Linked DNA regions of Homo sapiens: region 2 is linked to region 1. Evidence: fine-mapped expression QTL. A gene starts in region 1. The other region holds a variant in brackets. All regions are shown on one strand. Distances are from middle to middle. Region 1 holds the start of GNRH1 (gonadotropin releasing hormone 1). Region 2 overlaps DOCK5 (dedicator of cytokinesis 5).

What was found. PIP is the estimated chance that this variant, and not a neighbour inherited with it, causes the effect.
Region 2: its variant is fine-mapped to the expression of GNRH1 in tibial nerve (GTEx, PIP 0.98).

The regions. Positions count from the first base shown.
Region 1 is chr8:25,422,680-25,425,602 of GRCh38, reverse strand. GNRH1 (gonadotropin releasing hormone 1) reads left to right here and starts at 1,342. Exons shown (of 4, transcript NM_001083111.2): 1 at 1,342-1,402; 2 at 2,272-2,413. The coding sequence starts at 2,273.
Region 2 is chr8:25,381,825-25,384,747 of GRCh38, reverse strand. It overlaps DOCK5 (dedicator of cytokinesis 5), which reads right to left. Exons shown (of 52, transcript NM_024940.8): 40 at 1,970-2,074. Among named protein-coding and RNA genes, the nearest start is that of MIR6876, 38 kb to the right of the region's middle. The variant AAG/G (reference allele first, on the strand shown) is at 1,775.

The DNA.
Region 1 (2,923 bases):
AATGACTGATGGGTTTAGCATCCTACATGAGGGGAAATTGCCATTCCCAGCTGTAAAATGAACAAATATCCAGTTATTTTTTTTAGCCATCTTACAGCTTAGCTAATATAACAGGATTTACAGCCAATTATACATGAAAGTTTAATTCTGTGTCAGATAAAGCATATCTTTGATGCAGAAATAGAGGCAGCATTAGGCCTTACCTGGTTAAAAGCTTTTTGCTTTCTATTCATTCATTCGTTCATTCATTCATTCAAACCTATACTTACTGAATGCTCACTAAATGCCGGGGGTTTATTAAGAGAGATTTAAATAAGATGGGATCTTTGACTATTACAGGTTTCAGCCTAGGGGTAAATTAGGGGAAGACAACCATGTATTCAAATAAATGTAATTAAGAGTAATGGTTGTGTGTGTATTTTACATGCTTGTCCTGTGTAAATAACACGTCCACGGTTGCACCTCTGGGGTGGAACATCTATAAAATTTAGATAATGATACCCACTTTGCATGGCTATTGTAATGAATGCTCTTATACATTTGCTATTTATTAAATAACTATAATTTCTCATCTTTCTGTTCCCACTGCCCTTAAGAGTGATTTGCATATTTAACTCAATAAGCATCTACTGAAATGAGTTGATCTGTTGATGTAAGTCTGCTCAATATGGTCTTGCTCTCAGAATATGTTTCTTGCCTTTTTGATGCTTTAGAAGGCTTTCAAGGTAAGTCAAGCAGGGAACCTGGTGGGTAGATGAGGGAATTTTCAAACACACAACTGTCTGATTTAGGATCCTACATGGACTTGGTATATAGTGTCACTTACTTGTAAATCAGATTTTTAAAATTGGAAGCAACTCTGTGATCATCTAGTCCATCTAGTCTACACCCTTCCTTTTACAAATGAAGAATCCAAGAGCCAGAAGCTCCCAGACATCCTGACTCAATGTCCTATATTTGTTGTATAGCCTCCTTTGTGGAAGTTATGTATGCATTTGACTTCACTTAATCTAAGACATCTATTTTCCTTGAACTCTTGATAGGTCTGCTGGTTTCCTCAAGGGAATCCAATCTAGCTGGATTTTAATCTCTTTGAATTGTGTCCTCAGCTATAAAAGTTTTAGCTGAGGTTTTAATGGCTGCACTTAAGTAAATCTAACAGATATACCAGGGGGTGTTCCAATTACATACACCATTAAAGGGCTTTATGTGAGGATTTTTAAAAATTACCATTAAAAAAAAAAAAGCATAGTCCATTTGCAGTATAATTTACCAGCAGGAAAGATTTCAATGTCCTGGAAAAATTCCCTATAAAAAGGAAGATAGGAAAACAGAAAAGTCACAGTACTCAACCTACTTCAAGGGAAGATTGGGATCTTTTTGGCTCTCTGCCTCTAAACAGGTAAAAGGCTTTGTATTATTTCTAGCACGAGTTTTTCTTCTTTAGATTGCATGCTATTGTATGTCTACAGGGCATTTGACAGCCCAAGGGCTAAATCCAGGTGTGACGGTATCTAATGATGTCCTGTCCTTCACTGTCCTTGCCATCACCAGCCACAGAGATCCAGGCTTTGGGGACTCCCACAGCTTATCGACCAGTGTTTGATTTAGTTTTTAGCCTCTTTCCCATCAAATGAAAATTAACTTGGAGACACATTTCATTAGAAAATTAGAGGCCCCCTTGGCTAGGAAGGCATCTGGTCTGGGACTAACTACTTTGAACAGTGTTGAGTCCTCTCTCCCACAGATGGTTCAGCCAGCAGTAATGCTAGGAAGACTGAAGGATAAATAGAAAAATGTCATTAGTACCATGGGGTAGCCATGTAATGTCAAGCAATTTTATATTAGCCAGAGATTCCTAGTAGGAGCTACTTTTCTTAACAGATGACTCAGTTCTCTTTATCTCAGGAATGAAAGAGTTGAAGACCAATCCACAACAGGGGAAATGTTAAGGCAAAATGATGAACTTGATAAGGGATGAATTATGGGGTTTGGATAACCAAACAATAAAAATAAAAGTATAGACTATTTTAGTACTAAAAAGGTCCTGAACATGTGAGCTTAAGTACTCATTTTGTCCCCAGTGGCTAAGAAACTAAAGGCAAGCCAGCAAGTGTCTCTGAGTTTCAGTGTCTGTATGTAAAAACTGACTCTGACTTCCATCTTCTGCAGGGTTAGTGATACAGATGCTAGCTTTTTCACTAAAGAGGTCTTTTAGTTTATACTCAACCTTGTCTGGATCTAATTTGATTGTGCATTCATGTGCCTTAGAATGAAGCCAATTCAAAAACTCCTAGCTGGCCTTATTCTACTGACTTGGTGCGTGGAAGGCTGCTCCAGCCAGCACTGGTCCTATGGACTGCGCCCTGGAGGAAAGAGAGATGCCGAAAATTTGATTGATTCTTTCCAAGAGGTAAGTTTCTCTCAGCTTCAAAATAAGACATAGTGATTTTATTCAATTTAACTATATTAAACATTCAGGATAGCCCCAATGTCAATATTCTATGATGTTGTACCCTAGATGCTCCAGGTGAGATAAGGCACTTACAAAGTAGAAGTCCCATTCCTACTTTCAGTTCACACAGGGACTAAACAAAGAGCTGGAAAAATTCCAAAAGAATATATTAATAGCAACAAGTGTGAGACAGCACGTCATACTCTGAGTGTATGGGATTGCTAAAGGAATTAGAAACAATGGGATAGGGTCAAGGTCTGTATCAGAAGATGATTCTTTGGGATTTGGAAAAAACGTTAGAACTTCGTTTTTTTTTTCCTCATTTCATCTTTTAAACATATCTATGCTATTAGATCAGTACATTTTTATAATTTATAAATGAGTATCCTTATCAAGGATGCATGCCCTATAATTTCTTTTCACTGATAGGGGCATTTAAGCAAAGTTGGAGACTGGTAGAATACAGGA
Region 2 (2,923 bases), 41 kb after region 1:
TGGCTCATGCCTATAATTCCAAAACTTTGGGAGGCTGAGGCAGGGGGATCAACTGAGGTCAGGAGTTCGAGATCAGCCTGGCCAACATGGTGAAACCCCATCTCTACTAAAATACAAAAAATTAGCTGGGCCTGGTCGTGCACACCTGTAATCCCTGCTACTTGGGAGGCTGAGGCACGAGAATCGCTTCAACCCAGAAGACGGAGGTTGCAGTGAGCCGAGATTCCACCACTGCACTTCATCCTGGGTGACAGAGCGAGACACTGTCTCAAAAAAAAAAAAAATAAATAAATAAATAAATAAATAAATAAATAAAATAATAATATTAAGACATAATCTACATACAGTAAAATGGACCCCTTTTAGTGTAAAATTCTGTGAGTTTTGACAAACATAACCAGGACCACAATCAAGATACAGAACAGTTTCACTGCCACCAAAAATTTCCCCAGGCCCTTCTGCAGCCAACCTCCCCCTGGCCAGCAACCACTGATCTACTTTCTGTCCTGATAGGAAGCGTTGCCTAGGCAAGAATTTCGTATAAATAAAACCACAGAGTACGCAGCCTTTTAAGTGTAACTTCTTTTACCTAGCAAGCTGCATGTGGGTGGGAATCATGCCCGCAGTTGTGTGTATCAGGAGCTGACTGCCTTTGGCTGCTGCAGTATTCTGTTGTGTGGATACACTGAAGTTTGTTTATCCCATCACCAGTTCAGGGACACGTGGATTGGATCCTGTCTTTGGTGACTATGATTAAAGCTGCTATAAATATTCCTGTACATTTTTTGTAAAAGGGTAAGTTTCTATTTCACTTGGGTAAATACTTCCTGGTTACAGATTCTTATAGCACAGGGTATCTTTCTTGGTTATAGTTTATTTATTTATTTATTTTTGAGATGGAGTCTCGCTCTGTCACCTAGGATGGAGTGCAGTGGTGTGATCTCGGCTCAATGCAACCTCCACCTCCTGGGTTCAAGCAATTCCCCTGCCTCAGCCTCCTGAGTAGCTGAGATTACAGGCATGCACCACCACGCCCAGCTAATTTTTGTACTTTTAGTAGGGACAGCGTTTCAGCATGTTGGCCACACTGGTCTCGAACCCCTGACGTCAAGTGATCTGCCTGCCTCAGCCTCCCAAAGCGCTGGGATTACAGGCATGAGCCACTGCGTCCGACATGCAGATTAAATTTTACATTCATGTGTGATTAAAATCTCCCCTCATGAGTTTAGGTTGTAAAATCCATGAGAGTAGGGACTATGTTTGACTGTAATCAGCAAGATCTTTCTAATGCCTTCCCTATGCCTGGCACACAGTAGATGTTCAATAAATATTTACTGACTGAATGAATAAACTGTCTCATTAGGCACTGTTAGGAATGTAAATTGCTTGCTTTATCGCTTGTTTTCAAATTAGGAGAAAGCAGATGGATAATAAATGTTTAAGCAAAGCTCAGCTCTAAAAGAAACTTTTCGTAAGAGATAAGAATTTTTATTTATTAAACTATAAATTGAATATCGCATTATACACAATTTTGAGATGGAAGAAAAATACCATCCTTGTCATTATTATTATAATAAAATGTTTTATTTTGGGATACTCCTGCAGTCTGGTTCTTGGGATACCTATTTTCAAATTAGCTCTGGCTAGAAACATGGTAAACAACGAAATACATCAGTCCACACTTTTCCCTGGCGTGACCCGTAGCAGCTGACCAGTGCGGGGGATGGTTCTGTTTTTCCCTTTTTCACTGCACCTGGGAAAAGTCATTTCACAA[AAG/G]ACCTGCAGAACACCACGGGTGTCCGGGGGTGTGGGGTGAAGAGGCCGGCTGCTCAGGAAGTGGTTTCCCTCCCCTACCTCCCACAGCGAGAACACGGGTCGGCAGCTGCTAACACCCTGTTGCCCATCTGGAAAAGAAATGAGTCTCTTCCCTCCTCCTAATGGCCTGGGAGACCACCATCAGGTTTCTTACCCGTAGGAAAGAAGGAAAGCCCTGTCCATAGTATCCAACAGCAAAGTATTCAGGCTGAGGCCTCATTGCCTTAATGATGTTCTCATAAAATGAGGCCCTTTTTTTCTGGAAAACAAAACAAGACATTCCAAGGGGAGGTTATAAGTACACAGTTGGGGGAAAAAAAAAGTCAGACTTTGTTTTGTTGTTTCCCACGTAACCCAGAGCAATGAAAGGTCTTTGGAAAACACCCTATGGGCAGAAAAGGGTTATCCTATTCTCGGATCACAGGTTTTGGACCTGGGCTCCATGAATGGACGTTGGAAGGCTGTGACTCCCTGAGGGTGTATGCTGAAGTGTGTGCACGTTGGAATTCTTCTGCGTAACGGGGCAGTGCACAACTTTCAGCAGTTTCTCAAAGTGGGCTCAGGGACTACAAAAGGTTAAAAAGTGCATTCTGAGATTCACAGAAGGCGGCTGCACTTAACCAGACACCCATGGGAGAAGATAAAGAACCTTCCAAGGCCAGGCGCAGTGGCTCACGCCTATAATCCTTGCACATTGGGAGGCAGAGGTGGGAGGATTGCTTGAGGCTAGGAGTTTGAGACCAGCCTGGGCAACATAGTGAGACTCCATCTCTACAAAAAATTAAAAAATTAGCCAGCAGCTGAGGCAGGAAGATGTCTTGAGCCCAGGAGTTCAAGGTTGCAGTGGGCTATGACTGCACCACTGCACTCCAGCCTGGGTGACAGAGTGAGACCCTGTTTTGAAAAAATAATAATAAAATAAAGAACATTTTTAAAAAGAAGGACTGTGTAGTTCATGCAGGTGGTCTGGATGAAAGTGTCTGGTAAATTATAAGTGCCCAGAAGGTGGTGGTGATGTTCGGTTTTTCAGTATCTGCTACCATCTTTATCTTTAATTCTTCACAAGATGAGGGGCTTTCCAGCTTTGGCTCACAAGGTCAGCCTTAAA